Linked DNA regions of Homo sapiens: region 1 is linked to region 2. A link means that fine-mapping ties the variant in region 2 to the expression of a gene that starts in the linked region. Tissue or cell type: unexposed skin. Region 2 holds a variant in brackets; the other region holds the start of a gene. All regions are shown on one strand. Distances are between the middles of the regions.

Region 1 (8,081 bases), 75 kb before region 2:
GTAGCTGGGACTATAGGTGCACACCACCATGCCTCGCTAATTTTTATACTTTTTGTAGAGTCAGGGTTTCACCATGCCCAGCCTGGTCTTCAACTCCTGGGCTCAAGTGATCTTCCTGCCTCCCAAAGTGCTGGGATTACTGGCGTGAGCCACCGTGCCTGGATATCGTATTTTAATTTGTAATTTTTTTGGTATGTACTCCCCCTGCTTTAATTTTAATTTTTTAAATTAAAGTACTATATACAGGCTGGGTGTGGTGGCTCATGCCTGTAATCCCAGCACTTTGGGAGGCTGAGGTGGGTGGATCACCTGAGATCAGGAGTTCAAGACCAGCCTGGCCAACATGGCGAAACCCCATCTCTATTAAAAATACAAAAATTATCTGGGCATGGTGGCACGTGCCTGTAATCCCAGTTGCTCAGGAGGCTGAGGCAGGAGAATTGCTTGAACCGGGGAGGCGGAGGTTGCAGTGAGCCGAGATTGTGCCACTGTACTCCAGCCTGCGCGACAGAGAACCCATCTCAAAAAAAAGAAAGTAATACATACATGCCAGGTGTGGTGGCACATGCCCAAAATCCCAGCACTTTGGGATGCTGAGGTGGGCAGATCACTTGAGCCCAGGAGTTTGAGACCAGGCTGGCCAGTATGGTGAAACCCTGTCTCTACTAAATATACAGAAACATTAGCTGAGCATGGTGCTGCATGCCTGTAGTCCCAGCTACTCAGGAGGCTGAGGCACGAGAATTGCTTGAACCTAGGAGGCTGAGGTTGCGGTGAGCTGAGATTGCACCACTACACTCCAGCCTGGGCAACAGAGCAAGACTCTGTCTCAGAAAAATAAAGCAATACATACGCATGGTTAAAAAATTAATGATATGGAAATATATAAAAGTAAACATCTTCTTTTTCCAAAGGACTAGTCCTCTCTGGAAGTAACCACTCTTAACAAGTTTTTCCATGTTCTTCCAGAAAACTTCGCACACTAGAGCAACACAGGTGTCCTTTTAGAAAATATTATCGGCCGGGCACGGTGGCTCACACCTGTAATCCCAGCACTTTGGGAGGCTGAGGTGGGTGGATCACCTGAGATCAGGAGTTCTGAGACCAGCCTGGCCAACATGGCGAAACCCTGTCTCTACTAAAAATACTAAAATTAGGCGGGTGTGGTGGCGGGCACCTGTAGTCCCAGCTACTCAGGAGGCTGGGGCATGAGAATTGCTAGAACCTGGGAAGCAGAGGTTGCAGTGAGCCAAGATTGTGCCACTGCACTCCAGCCTGGGTGACAGAGTGAGACTGTGTCTCAAAAAAAAAAAAAAAGAAAGAAAATATTATCAAATAGGTTCATACTTTGGTGGGGTTTTGGTTTGTTTTGACTAAAACCCTTCATTCTCTGTACTGTATTTGAACAATACCTATTGATGGACATTTCTGGTGTTTTCAGTTTTTGAATTTCTACACAGTCCTGGAATGAACATTTCATTTGTATGTCTCGCTAATTTTTATACTTTTTGTAGAGTGCTGGGATTACAGGCATTTGTATGTCTTGTAATTTGTATGTCATCTTGCAATTGTGTACTATGTACCTTGGATGTACCTTTTAAAGATCGTTGGTGGTGGGACACGTGTTTTTTGAGGAAGATGGTACTGAGGTCAGCACCCTGGCTGCCCTGAGAGTGCAGTGCCACGTTCCCCACCCTCTCGCCAACCACAGGATTATGCTGCAAATGTAAATCTTTACCAATTTGATAGGCAAAAAATGGGATCTCAGCATTTTAGCCTGCATCTCTGAGTACTAACGAGGCTGAACACGAAATGAGCTTATTTTCTTTTCAGAAGCCCCTGAATGTGACAGTGATCCGCAGGGGGGAAAAACACCAGCTTAGACTTGTTCCAACACGCTGGGCAGGAAAAGGACTGCTGGGGTAAAGTATCTGTTTCTGTTCATTCTCACTGGGGCATCATTTGAGTGTTTGTTAAACATGAAGCTGGAGGGGAAGGCTGGGGAGACATTGGGGAATAATGGGAATCCCCAGTTTGCATGGAAACTGCAGATAAATCCTCGTGGTAGGAACGAGACTACAGCTCTAGAAGCAGAGGGAGCCCCAGAGTCTCTCCTGGGAGTCTCTCCAGTTCATTCATGCACTAGGCATTTGCTTTAAAAGAATGAAAGAACATTGGTGAAAAGGTCAGAAGGGCTCAGCCTCTGACCTTCCTGAAGGGAGCCTCCAAACTTACGCCATTCCTTTTCTTCTTTCTTCCAGCTGCAACATTATTCCTCTGCAAAGATGATTGTCCCTGGGGAACAGTAACAGGAAAGCATCTTCCCTTGCCCTGGACTTGGGTCTAGGGATTTCCAACTTGTCTTCTCTCCCTGAAGCATAAGGATCTGGAAGAGGCTTGTAACCTGAACTTCTGTGTGGTGGCAGTACTGTGGCCCACCAGTGTAATCTCCCTGGATTAAGGCATTCTTAAAAACTTAGGCTTGGCCTCTTTCACAAATTAGGCCACGGCCCTAAATAGGAATTCCCTGGATTGTGGGCAAGTGGGCGGAAGTTATTCTGGCAGGTACTGGTGTGATTATTATTATTATTTTTAATAAAGAGTTTTACAGTGCTGATATGACCCTGTTGTCACCCCAGCTGAATTTCTTATGACCCTCCCAAACCAAAGCTCAGATGGGGTCAGAAGAGCTTCATAGAAAGTTGGGCAAAACAGGCTAGCAATTGCAAAGTCAGGCTTTGACCAACATATTTCTTTGCACTGAGGCCTTGCTGCTGTGGATACGGAAATGGTTAAGTACTGTGCTTCCTCAGCAGCTGGGCTGTCAGGGCCATAGTAGCTCCCTTTGGAGAACAGGGAAAGCCTGGAGGCTTCCCAGGTGGCCCAGCGTGGTGTCCTGTCAGCTTCCTCTTTAGGAACCCACCAGAGGGCAGCAAGCTCCTTTCACTTCGCTAGTAAGAACCCCTCCGTTTTTGTGTGTTTTTGTTTTTGTTTTCTGGAGACAAGGTCTTGCTTTGTCACCCAGGCTGGAGTGCAGTGTCGTGATCAAGGTTCACTGAAGCCTTGACGCTGTGGGCACTGCCTCAGCCGCCCAAGTATCTGGGACCACAGGCGTGCACCACCATGCATAGCTAATTTATTTTTTGTAGAGACAGGGTCTCCCTGTGTTGACCAGGTTGGTCTCGAACTCCTGGGCTCAAGCAGTCCTCCTGCCTTGGCCTCCTAAAGTGCTGGGATCACAGGCGTGAGCCACTGCGCCCAGCCCACTGCTAGTTTGACTTTTTATAATTGAACCTCCTGGCTATGCCCTGAGATCAGCGCTATTTTGTAAACCGCTGAGGTATGGATAGGAACGAGTAGATCAGACCTCTTGAAAATGCTTATTCTTCCTCCCTTTTATTTTTTGTCTCTTTTAAGATGGTAAAATGGTTCTCAGGGATTCCTGCCAATACTTTGAATTATTTTTTCCTCTCCATGGTATCAGTGTTCATTTCCCCAGTTCTTGCACACCGCTTTCTGTTTTGGCAGTTCTGCCAGGCAAGCCCTGTGTTCCTTGGGACTGGTTTTGCTGTGGTTGGATACAGATACCAGCTTGCCTTGATGGGATTGGTATTGCTGTGTGCTTCCAGCCACAGGTTCTCACACTCAATTCCAAAGCCTTCCTATTGGGCGAATTCCCTCAAACTCTATTTGACCTGACAGCCATACGTATTCCCCTCTGGTAGCCACAGACATGCTGTGTTTACCAATGTTTGCTGTTTAAATTGCATGTTCTAATTCCACGTATTTTCCAGTCTCTTTTATAAAGTCTCAGACTATAATAAACACAGCTTGCCCAGTTTATCCTTTCTTTTTTATTTTAAGATGTATGCATATTAATCAATTTACCATCACTGGGGCATGGCAGTGTGGGCGGGGAGAATTATTCACATTCTCCTAAAATGACAGCAGCAGAGAGCCTTCTGCCTCAGTGGCTCTGGCTGGTTTCCTGCAGGGGTCCCAGTGGAAACCCGTGTGGCCACCTGTTGCCGTCTTCCATGAGATGTTAGTGGAGAGCCACTTTGACGTGGAATGATCCTAATAGATATAGCCAGACCGGTTTTGCGGAAACGCTTTGTGCTGAGAACCGCAAGCTGGTGCACCCTGTGTCATATCTGCCCCCAGCCAGCTGGAATTGTCTGCAACACGCGGTGCCCGGTGAGGAGGCAGGCAGGACGGTTGTGTGCTGCATCCATGAGACCTGGAAATTCAGTTTGCTTTTGGAAAAGAGCATTGTATCCGAGTTCATACTTCTCCACCCCATCTTGCCAAGGTTGCGGAAAGTAAAAATTGGCAGTATTGGCCGCTGCAGCTTCTTAGGGGACGGGACCATGTGAAAAGGTGGGATCGTGCGAGCGGAGGAAGGACAGAAAAGCGAGGAAAGTCTATGCCGCCAGCGACCGGCAGGAGGCACGTCGGGCACGCTCGTCACCGTTTCCTGGCACGTGACCACCGCCCTGCCCTGTCGCTTTAGGGCCTGTCGCTTCCGGCGGTGGCGGTTGCCATGGGGACGGAGCTTGGGTGGCAACCAGAACTAGGGAGCTGGTGGAGAAGGTGGCGGCCGCTGGAAGGAGGCCCGGGAGGTGGCTGAGGGGTCCAGGCGGCGGGACGACTCTGGCCTTTTGAAGACCGGGGTGGGTGCTCTCTGTAAGTCCGGGGCGGAGGCCACGCGGCCCTGGCGAGGGGGCCCCCGACCTGGCGGGGTCTGGTGCCCCTTGGGGGGCGCTCACCCGACCTGGCCCTTGTGGGGCCTGGGGCGGCCCCAGGGAGACCTGAGTTGGAGGCAGAGGCCGCACCTGGGCTTTAATCCCCTCGCAGAGCCACGCACCTGGCACCCCTGCCCCAAACCCCTGCGGCTCGAACCCGGCTGTCCAGACGCGCCGGCGAAGTTGGGCTCAGTCAAAAGAGGCTCGGTGGTGAGAGCCCTAGACTTGATTCAGAGCAGTGATTTTTCAGCTGGAGAAACTAAGTGCCAGAGAAATCTCGTTCTTACTAGCGGTGTCATCTTGAATAAGTCACTTCACCTCTCAGAGCCTCAAACTCATTTATCCATTCATTATTTATTTATTATTATTATTATTATTTTTTTTTTACCAGAGATGAATTTGAGGAGCTGATACATTTAGTGCTGAGAAAGAAATTAAGAAATAGAAATACCTTTTCTACTCTGTACTCTCTGGGACTTTATTTTCAAAGTGTTGAGTTCTCTTATTCTAATGTCACTGAAAATGTAGGGATTTTTTTTGTTCGGGGTCCAACTCTTTAGGGATAAAGTATCCATCCTTATTGTTTTCCTAGTTCAAACTCTTGTTTGTTGTAAGGAATAAATGGAGAATATGCCAGAAGGCTTTCAAACTGTTCATTTCTTTGCACATTAGGGTTGCTTTTCTCTCAAATAATAACAACTGCTACCATTTTTTCAAGCTGTATGTGCCAGAATTGTGATGAGCATTTTATATATGTTATCACTTCTCTACAACAACCCTAGAATTTAGGATTATTCTTTTCATTTTGCCCATGAGAAAATGCAGACTCTGAGGGGTAAAGTGACTTGCCCAAGGTCACAGAGCAAGTACGTGGTGGAAATGGGATTCAATGCTAGGACAAGCTGACAGCAAGGCCCTTGCTTTTAACCACTAGGCTACCCTGCTTCTTCTCGTATTCCTGTTTCTAGAATTGTTGCTAATATGTGGGTTATGCATTTTGCTGCCTGTGGGAATATAAATATATTTTAAATGAGTAAAAAGGCTACAAGGTGTTTATTCCCAGAAAGTTGACAGGCCCTGGATCAGTATTTTTAAGATCTGGGCCACAAATACATATACTTTAAGATTTCCCAGCTGCGCGTGATGGCTCACGCCTGTAATCCCAGCACTTTGGGAAGCCAAGGCGGGCGGATCACTTGAGGTCAGGAGTTTAAGACCAGACTGGCCAAAATGGTGAAACCCTGCCTCCATTGAAAAAATACAAAAATTAGCTGGGTGTGGTGGCAGACGCCTGTAATCCCAGCTGCTCGGGAGGCTGAGGCAGGAGAATAGCTTGAACCCTGGAGGCAGTAATTGCAGTGAGCCAAGATCGTGCCACTGCACTCCAGCCTGGGCAACAAGAACAAAACTCTGTCTCAAGAGAAAAAAAAAAAAAAGGTTTCCCACAAATGTGACTTTTTTTTTTTTTTTTTTTTTTTGAGAGAGGGTCTCGCTCTGTTGCCCAGGCTGGACTGCAGTGGCATGATCTTGGCTCGCTGCAACCTCCGCCTCCCAGATTCAAGCTATTCTCCTGCCTCGGCCTTCTGAGTAGCTCAGATTACAGGCACCACCACCACACCAGGCTTTTTGTATTTTTTTTTTTTTTTTGAGACGGAGTCTCGCTGTGTTGCCCAGGCTGGAGTGCAGTGGCACGATCTCGGCTCACTGCAAGCTCCGCCTCCCGGGTTCACACCATTCTCCTGCCTCAGCCTCCCGAGTAGCTGGGACTACAGGCGCCCACCGCCAAGCCCGGCTAATTTTTTGTATTTTTAGTAGAGACGGGGTTTCACCGTGTTAGCCAGGATGGTCTCGATCTCCTGACCTCGTGATCCACCCGCGTCAGCCTCCCAAAGTGCTGGGATTACAGGCGTGAGCCACCACGCCCGGCCAACTTTTTGTATTTTTAGTAGAGATGGGGTTTCACCATGTTGGCCAGGCTGGTCTCAAACTCCTGACCTCAACTGATCCTCCCGCCTCAGCCTCCCAAAGTGTTGGGATTACAGGCGTGAGCCACTGTGCCTGGCCAGAAATATGACATTCTTTTTTTGTTTTTATTTTTGAGACAGAACTTTGCTCTTGTTACCCAGGCTGGAGTGCAATGGTATGATCTTGGCTCACTGCAACCTCTGCCTCCCAGGTTCAAGCGATTCTCCTGCCTCAGCCTCCCAAGTAGCTGGGATTACAGGCGCCTGCCACCACACCCAGCTAATTTTTGTATTTTTAGTAGAAACGGGGTTTCATCATGTTGGCCAGGCTGGTCTCAAACTCCTGACCTCAGGTGATCCATCTGCATTGGCCTCCCATAGTGCTGGGATTACAGGCATGAGCCACCGTGCCTGGTCAGAAACATGACATTCTTTTTATTCCTATGGAAAGGGAACAGAGCCATTTATGCACATTTCATCAGTAGGTTAGTGCACTAGGAGATGGAAATGGGAAGCTGAGGGCCAGCTGGTTATTATGGTCAAAATCTCTCTAGAGGAAACTCTACAGAGAAGAATGTCAGATGCAGCAGAAGCTCCCCGAGAAGCAACAGGAGAAAATGGAGAAACAGAAATGAAAGAAGAGGAGGAACCTAATCCAAATTATAAAGAAGTAGAAGATCCACAACAGGAATCAAAAGATGACACAATAGCATGGAGAGAGTCTCAGGAGGAGGAGAGGAAAACGGGCGAGGAGGAAGGGGAGGAGGAGGGGAAGGAGGACAAAAAGATTGTCATGGAAGAAACTGAGGAAAAGGCTGGAGAAGTCCAAGAGAAGGAGGCTTCAGGAATACAGGAAGAAACCACAGTAGAGCCCCAAGAAGTCACAGCGTCCATGATCCGTTTGGAGACACAGATTACTGATTCCCAGTCAATCACATCAGGAATTTTCCCAGTAAGTAGTCATCTTAATTCATTCATCAATTCATTCAGAATCATTAGTTGAATGCTTAGTATAGGCCAGACTATGGGAACACAAAACCAAATAAGGTACAATCCATTCCTTTTTTTTTTTTTTTGAGACAGAGTCTCACTGTTGCCCAGGCTGGAGTGCAGGGGCACAATCTCAGCCTGCTGCAACCTCCGCCTCCTGGGTTCAAACTATTCTCCTGCCTCAGTCTCCTGAGTAGCTAAGATTACAGGCATCCACCACCACACCCAGCTAATGTTTTATATTTTCAGTAGAGATGGGGTTTCGGTCTTACCATGTTGGCCAGACTGGTCTCAAATGCATGATCTCAAATGATCTGCCCACCTTGGCCTCCCAAAGTGCTAGGATTACAGGCACACGCCACCACGCCCGGCCACAATCCAT
Region 2 (8,100 bases):
TAGGGTGCATGAGGCAGGATCAGGATTTTAGAGAGCTGTGGACACAGAATTAGCAAATCCTTGATTGTGGGTTTGGTACAAGGTGCAAGACTTGTCATTCAGCTAGGACTGTCTCTTTCAGACCTTTGAAAACATTCACTGGGAAGGGAAGAGTCCCTGGAGGTGTTTGAGACCTGGGCTCTGATGCAGGGCAGGGTGACAGTCACTCTAAAGGGCCCTGTGAATGGGTGTTGTTCACATGGAGTAGAAGACAGTGGGCAAGAGCACCAGGCCAGGCCTTGGCTGCTGTCACCTGAGACTGCGTCCAGAGGGCAGAACTGTGCATGCATGCCCCACTCCTGGAAAAAGAGGCAGTCGCCATCCAGATCTAGTTCCTGGAGGGAGGTATGGAGCAGTTGGGGTCACAGTGTTGCATGAATCGCAGAGGGGGCGCTCACAGGGGTCTCCAGATGTGGCCATGCAGTGACGCTGCCCAGCCCTTACGCCCCCTCCTCAGCCCACTACTCCCTGCCCCGGGTCAGCGAGGAGATGCAGGGGGTGACCAGGGGAGGGTATGAGTGAAGATGATGAGTGGGAACAAGACACTGTGCCCCATTAGTTGAGAATGTTCTAGAGGGTATTGTGCGTTGGGAAGAGGGCGTGGGGAAGAGGGTGAGTGCTCCCAGTCCTACTGGTCCATGAAACCATTAGAAAAGCAAACCTGCCCCCACCAGGAGCCTGCTTATAAAAACAAGGAATGGCCCCAGTTCAAATATATCGTGTTCCTCTCCATTTAATAGGGAGGTTGTAAAACTTAATTATAGAACATAATTCTAAGGACATCAATGGCTTCCTGAGGCTGACAGCAGGGATCACAGACCCAAAGGCCTGCGTCATCAATGACAGAGGCAGAAATAAGATGCTCTCGGGTGAGGGGACTCCAGCCCACCACCAAGAGGCCACCCTCATGTCTTGGGGCCTGGAGCAGTCGGGGCAACAGAGGCCCAGATGCTGTATGTCTAAATGTTTAAAAGTTACCAATCAAGCAACAAGCTGATAAATAAATATTCCCCCTTGACAGTTCAACCTTCAACATGAGCTGATTCAAAGTTCACACCCGAATGGGCAGCATGCAGGGCCAAGCCAAGCTGGGCCTGCCCCATGTGTCCTCCCAGCTCTGACCCCATCCCTGGCCACTGTGTGCATGGCATTCAGGAGGTGGACCCTTCTCTATACTCTCCAAACAGCAGCCCCGGGGCACCCTTCAGGCCTATGGGTGGGCAACACCAGGGGCACAGGTTGGCCTCAGGAGGGTGAGATCCCCATGGGCCCCGGAAGTGGGCTTAGGTTATGTAGGGGAGAGAAGCCTCGGGTTCAGGTACCCAGAGTGTGGTCTAGAATTGGGTGCATGGGCTCGGGGTGGGCACCTCCTCTGCACCCTCCTCCTCATGCTTGTTTCCCAGCATACAGTGTCTTCCTCTGACCTCCTACTGGCCAAACCCTTCATGGCTCTGCAGTAGGCCCACCTCTTCCAGGAAGCCTTCCCGAAGCCCACCTGGCTGAGAGCTCCTCCAACCTTTGATGATGTTCTCCTGCATCTTGGCACTGAATCTTCTAGAGCCACGGTAGCCAACCTTTTAAAATCAGTTGAGGGCACTTAAAAAAATACATCAGTATTTTTACACCTGATTTTTACACCTGGGCCCCAGCCTTGTGCAACAGAACCTAGGGGTGGAGTCTAAGCATGGACAGTTTTTAAAGCCCCAGGCAGCCAGGGCTGAGGACCTTGGCGATGGAGCCTGTTAGTTCGCTTTCCTTGTGTATATCGTCTCTTGAGCATCTCTTCACATGGCCCAGACCTTAATAGACACTGAATAAATATTTGCTGACCCCAGTGACTAAGATTGAAAACCAGAATGCAGAACTGTTCTAGTAATAATTGAGAGACTTGTATTTCATTGGCTTTGCACTAAACCAAATGCTCAGTAACTACTAGTAAATCGAGTAAAATTAACTAGGGCACTAAATGATTATTCTAAGCTTCTTGTGAGTTTCAAGAGAATTCTTTTTGTGGCCTCACTTGTGTCCACATTATTTACTTCATCATTCATTCATTCATCCATTCATCCATCTATCTATCCATTCAGTAAACATTTCTCTGAGCCTCTATAATGTGCCAGGCTCTGAACTAAGCTGCCGGGGAAATAGAGATGAAAGCTCTGGCTACAGCTTAATGGGGAAAACAGATGTGAGCCCAAAGAATTAGAGCGTGCACCGCAGCTGCCACCCATTATTACTCTCTACTGAAAGTCACAAGCTTGGGGCTGATTCATTTTGGCACCAGTATCACCTCCGTGAACCCCTGTGGTCTAAGAGCAGCAGTATTCAAAGTGTGGTCCCCAGACCAACAGGATTGACTTCACGTGACCTAGGGACTTACAAGAAATGCAAATGGTCAGACCCTATCCCAGACTCAGAAACCCCCCAGGTGGGACCAGCAGTCTGTTTGAACAAGACCTCCCGGTCATTGTGAAGCCTGACATGTCAGCGAGCCTTTGCCTTCCAGCCATGTTTCTCAAGCTTGGCTACGCATTCAAATCATTCGAATGAGAAGCTTCCAAAAATTTGGTCCCCAGACCAATTAAATCAGGATCTCAGCTGGTTGTGGTGGCTCATTCCTGTAATCCCAGCAATTTGGGAGGCCGAGGCAGGCAGATCACTTGAAGTCAAGAGTTTGAGACCAGCCTGGCCAACAGTAGGAACCCTGTTGCTACTAAAAATACAAAAATTAGCCAGCTGTGGTGGCGCGCGCCTGTAGTCCCAGCTACTTGGGAGGCTGAGGCAGGAGAATTGGTTGGACTCAGGAGGTGGAGGTTGCTGTGATCCGAGATCACGCCACTGGACTCCTGCCTGGGCGACAGAGTGAGACTATCATCTAAAAAAAAAAATCAGGTTCTCAGGGAATAGGATCTGGGCCTCAGAACTGTTTAAGCTCTCCAGGTGAATGGAATAAAGCCCCGCCTTAGCAGGCGTGAGAATGCCAATCAAAGGCCAGGCTGACTGACAACCACCAGTGCGTCTGGGCCGCTCAGCTAGGACTCCTGCTTCTCTCAAGCCATCTTCACACGGGGGCGTTCAGAACAAGCTCTGCGTTCTATTTCCAGCTCCGAGGTTCCTCTCCCAAGCATGAACTTTGTTCAGACAAGTAGCAGAACCTGCCTTTTCAACGAACACTTGCGAAGTCGGCTCAGGAAGGAAATGTCAGTGATGCCGAAGCTGCCAACTCCGTGCTTGTTGAGTAGTGATTCTTGATCAGTCATACGGGAAGAGAGAGTAAGAGGTGAATCACATGCTGAGTGGTTTGTGCTGTGAATGTTTGCTGAGCTCTTTGGAACTCTCTGGGTATGAGTAACTCAGGCCCTTATGAATTCCTTTTGTCGTCTTAGTCTCCTGTTCTGAACTGAGTTAAATCATATATTACATTGGTAATTTATATATATTTATATATATTATTTCTTTTTTTTTTCTTTTTCAGACAGGGTCTTACTCCTCACTCCTGTTGCCCAGGCTGGAGTGCAGTGGCACAATCACGGCTCAGTGCAGCCTCCACCTCCCGGGCTCAGGTGATCCTCCCATCTCAGCCTCCCAAGTAGCTGGGACTACAGGCACATGCGCCACCACGCCAAGCTAATTTGTTGTCTTTTTTGTAGAGACAGGATTTCACAGCCCAGGCTGTCTCAAGCTCCTAAAACGATCTACCCACTCCAGCCTCCTAAAGTGCTGGGATTACAGGCGTAAGCCACCCCACCCAGCCAAATTATAATTTATCTTATGTTATGATTACATGTATTGTAATTAGCAAGTGCATAGAAAAATATAATCACAAGAGCTCTCCCTCTCCCTCTCCCACTCCCTCTCCCTCTCCGTCTCCCTCTCCCTCTCCCTCTCCCCACGGTCTCCCTCTCATGCGGAGCCGAAGCTGGACTGTACTGCTGCCATCTCGGCTCACTGCAACCTCCCTGCCTGATTCTCCTGCCTCAGCCTGCCGAGTGCCTGCGATTGCAGGCACGCGCCGCCACGCCTGACTGGTTTTGGTGGAGACCGGGTTTCGCTGTGTTGGCCGGGCCGGTCTCCAGCCCCTAACCGCGAGTGATCCGCCAACCTCGGCCTCCCGAGGTGCCGGGATTGCAGACGGAGTCTCGTTCACTCAGTGCTCAATGGTGCCCAGGCTGGAGTGCAGTGGCGTGATCTCGGCTCACTACAACCTACACCTCCCAGCCGCCTGCCTTGGCCTCCCAAAGTGCCGAGATTGCAGCCTCTGCC[C/T]GGCCGCCACCCCGTCTGGGAAGTGAGGAGTGTCTCTGCCTGGCCGCCCATCGTCGGGGATGTGAGGAGCCCCTCTGCCTGGCTGCCCAGTCTGGAAAGTGAGGAGCGTCTCCACCCGGCCGCCATCCCATCTAGGAAGTGAGGAGCGCCTCTTCCCAGCCGCCATCACATCTAGGAAGTGAGGAGCGTCTCTGCCCGGCCGCCCATCGTCTGAGATGTGGGGAGCGCCTCTGCCCCGCCGCCCCATCTGGGATGTGAGGAGTGCCTCTGCCCGGCCGAGACCCCGTCTGGGAGGTGAGGAGCGTCTCTGCCCGGCCGCCCCGTCTGAGAAGTGAGGAGACCCTCTGCCTGGCAACCACCCCGTCTGAGAAGTGAGGAGCCCCTCTGCCCGGCCAGCACCCCGTCCGGGAGGGAGGTGGGGGGGTCAGCCCCCCGCCCGGCCAGCCGCCCCGTCCGGGAGGGAGGTGGGGGGGGTCAGCCCCCCCGCCCGGCCAGCCGCCCCGTCCGGGAGGTGAGGGGCGCCTCTGCCCGGCCGCCCCTACTGGGAAGTGAGGAGCCCCTCTGCCCGGCCAGCACCCCGTCCGGGAGGGAGGTGGGGGGGTCAGCCCCCCGCCCGGCCAGCCGCCCCGTCCGGGAGGGAGGTGGGGGGGGGGTCAGCCCCCCCGCCTGGCCAGCCGCCCCATCCGGGAGGTGAGGGGCGCCTCTGCCCGGCGGCCCCTACTGGGAAGTGAGGAGCCCCTCTGCCCGGCCAGCCGCCCCGTCCGGGAGGGAGGTGGGGGGGGTCAGCCCCCCCGCCCGGCCAGCCGCCCCGTCCGGGAGGTGAGGGGCGCCTCTGCCCGGCCGCCCCTACTGGGAAGTGAGGAGCCCCTCTGCCCGGCCAGCCGCCCCGTCCGGGAGGGAGGTGGGGGGGTCAGCCCCCCCGCTCGGCCAGCCGCCCCGTCCGGGAGGGAGGTGGGGGGGGTCAGCCCCCCTGCCCGGCCAGCCGCCCCGTCCGGGAGGTGAGGGGCGCCTCTGCCCGGCCGCCCCTACTGGGAAGTGAGGAGCCCCTCTGCCCGGCCACCACCCCGTCTGGGACGTGTGCCCAACAGCTCATTGAGAACGGGCCAGGATGACAATGGCGGCTTTGTGGAATAGAAAGGCGGGAAAGGTGGGGAAAAGATTGAGAAATCGGATGGTTGCCGTGTCTGTGTAGAAAGAAGTAGACATGGGAGACTTTTCATTTTGTTCTGCACTAAGAAAAATTCCTCTGCCTTGGGATCCTGTTGATCTGTGACCTTACCCCCAACCCTGTGCTCTCTGAAACATGTGCTGTGTCCACTCAGGGTTAAATGGATTAAGGGCGGTGCAAGATGTGCTTTGTTAAACAGATGCTTGAAGGCAGCATGCTCGTTAAGAGTCATCACCAATCCCTAATCTCAAGTAATCAGGGACACAAACACTGCGGAAGGCCGCAGGGTCCTCTGCCTAGGAAAACCAGAGACCTTTGTTCACTTGTTTATCTGCTGACCTTCCCTCCACTATTGTCCCATGACCCTGCCAAATCCCCCTCTGTGAGAAACACCCAAGAATTATCAATAAAAAAATAAATTAAAAAAAAAATAATAATCACAAGAATAATTACTGTCTGTTGAATGCTTGCTATGTGTTAGGCATTATGTTAAGCACTTTACGTACATAGTCTCAATAAGCTTCAGAAAAGCCCAATGCATACGTATTACTGTATTCCCTGCTTTTTCAAGATGAGGAAACTGAGGAGAAGGAATGTGAGTAACTCACTCAAGGTCATATAGACAGAAAATGGCAGAGCCAGAGTTTGAACCTAGGTCTATCATCAAAGATTGCTCTTTTAGCCCCAACCTCTACTGCCTCATGGTAAATAGTAGCATTCCTATGTAGTAATACTGTCAAAATTATATAGTGCAATATGCAAATAATTGCTACTGGATAGTGTTTTTTCCTACATAAAATTATACATGATTTAACAAGCAATTGTACATAGTATAAACTCAGTAAATGCTGTATATGAAACAGTGTTACCATTTACAGCTACTTTTATAATATCAATTATGTATCAATTACAGTTAATTTGTATCTGTAACCAATAATGTTATTTCAACATTCCTGGAATCTTGCCTTTTTTTTTTGAGACAGGTTCTCACTCTGGCCCAAGCTGGAGTGCAGTGGCACAATCAGGGCTCACTGCAGCCTTGGCTTTCTGGGCTCAAGCCATCCTCCTGCATGAGCCCCCCAGTAGCTAGGACTGCCACCACACCTGTTTTTAGATTTTAGTGGAGATGAGGTCTCATTATGTTGCCCAGGCTGGTCTCAAACTCCTGAGCTCAAGCCATCCTCCCACCCTGGCCTCCCAAAGTGCTGGGATTATAGGCATGAGCCACCATGCCTGACCTGGAATGTTGCATTGAGAATATGTGGCATCTCTGAAACTACTAGGTGATTACTTAGATACAGCGTTAAAGGAAAAAAGCAGGATGTAAAATTATACATATGATACCAGTTTTGTAAAAAATATGCATGTGTATTTTATATGCATAGAAAAAATAGGAAGGAAGTGCCCCAAATCTCACCGAAATTGTGATTGGATGGTTGGATTACAAGAGATTTTTATTTTTTTCTTGATACTTGAGGCCAGACCAAGATGTGAGGGTGAAGGGTACTTGAGATAGGTTGGTAGCTTGGCAGTGCTGCAAACTGGTGTCCTCTGAATTTTTGTTCCACATTTTTTAAGTGGGACATGGAGAAATTGGTTACCGATTGATAAGTAATGTGTACAAATAGAGATTAAATTCCTGGTTCATTCCCACAGACCAAAGTAGAATGCCTGTTCTTTGGCAGGAGCAGGGAGGAGAGGAAGCAAATTGGTTCCCACTTCTCTGTTGCTCTTATTCTTTCTTTGTAAAATTCCAAACCCCACAGTTTATTGGGAAACATCCTAGGTTAAAATGTAAATGCTAAAATAAGTTACTAATTCCTAGCCCTTTCACTGGTATAATTGGGGTTTCTGCATTTCAGCTGACTGCTACATGCACGGTACAAAAATACTGCACAGAGAGAGGCTGACGGCAGTGAGGAACAGTTTTGTTTGTTTCTTTATTTATTATATTTCTCTCTTCCTCGTGTTTTGCCAGTGACATAAGGCGTCCTGTGAGGAGTCCTGTGTTAACTGGCCCCGCATTTCCACTTAAACCTAGGCATGTCAGCACCCTTTTCTCATTCGAGAAAAATTAGAAAATACACAAACTTTCCAAATGAGAAGGGGAAAATTTTTTAAATTATTATTTTTTTAAGCTGCAAAGAATGAACGTCTAAAAGATCTCATGGGCTTGGGCTCTGTAGGAGTTGGCAGTAGTAACACCATCACCCGATCATCTGCTGGTGGCCAAAAGGAAAGCCCTTATCAAAAAGGTATTTAGGAGCCTGGAGTCACAGCTTTTATCTCTGATGGGAAGCTGTGCACACTCTAAAGTGAGGTGGCCTGGTGCAGCCCCACTGGAGGGTGTTTTTAAGTTCTTGCAGTGACAAGTTGTCACATTTTCTTTTTGCTTCATCCAGATGCATGAATCAAAGCAACTGAAGTCTGAAAGGGAATGAAATGCCATGAGCCAGTATCTGTAACCTGCGGGTGACAACTCGAGAGCAACAAGTGACTGGGTTTAAGATGATCTCCTTTTAAAGGCGTCTTTAAAGCAAAAGGAAGCATGTGTGTTAGGGATCCACGCGCATGTGATGAACCACATAGAGCAGTGAAGTGGTGCAAATGGAAAATTCAGTAGCCAGTAC

Evidence for each region. PIP is the estimated chance that this variant, and not a neighbour inherited with it, causes the effect.
Region 1: CFAP251 starts here. The variant in region 2 is fine-mapped to the expression of CFAP251 in unexposed skin (GTEx, PIP above 0.99).

The regions. Positions count from the first base shown.
Region 1 is chr12:121,914,023-121,922,103 of GRCh38, forward strand. CFAP251 (cilia and flagella associated protein 251) reads left to right here and starts at 4,570. Exons shown (of 22, transcript NM_144668.6): 1 at 4,570-4,673; 2 at 7,264-7,661. The coding sequence starts at 7,284. It overlaps PSMD9 (proteasome 26S subunit, non-ATPase 9), which reads left to right. Exons shown (of 6, transcript NM_002813.7): 5 at 1,834-1,922; 6 at 2,262-4,275. The coding sequence ends at 2,289. RefSeq lists a silencer at 4,699-4,848.
Region 2 is chr12:121,989,077-121,997,176 of GRCh38, forward strand. The region is part of intron 19 of CFAP251 (cilia and flagella associated protein 251); the gene reads left to right. LOC124903038 (a long non-coding RNA gene) reads right to left here. Exons shown (of 2, transcript XR_007063499.1): 2 at 7,397-7,897. Among named protein-coding and RNA genes, the nearest start is that of BCL7A, 29 kb to the right of the region's middle. RefSeq lists enhancers at 1,959-2,008, 3,091-3,190 and a silencer at 5,947-6,241. The variant C/T (reference allele first, on the strand shown) is at 4,303.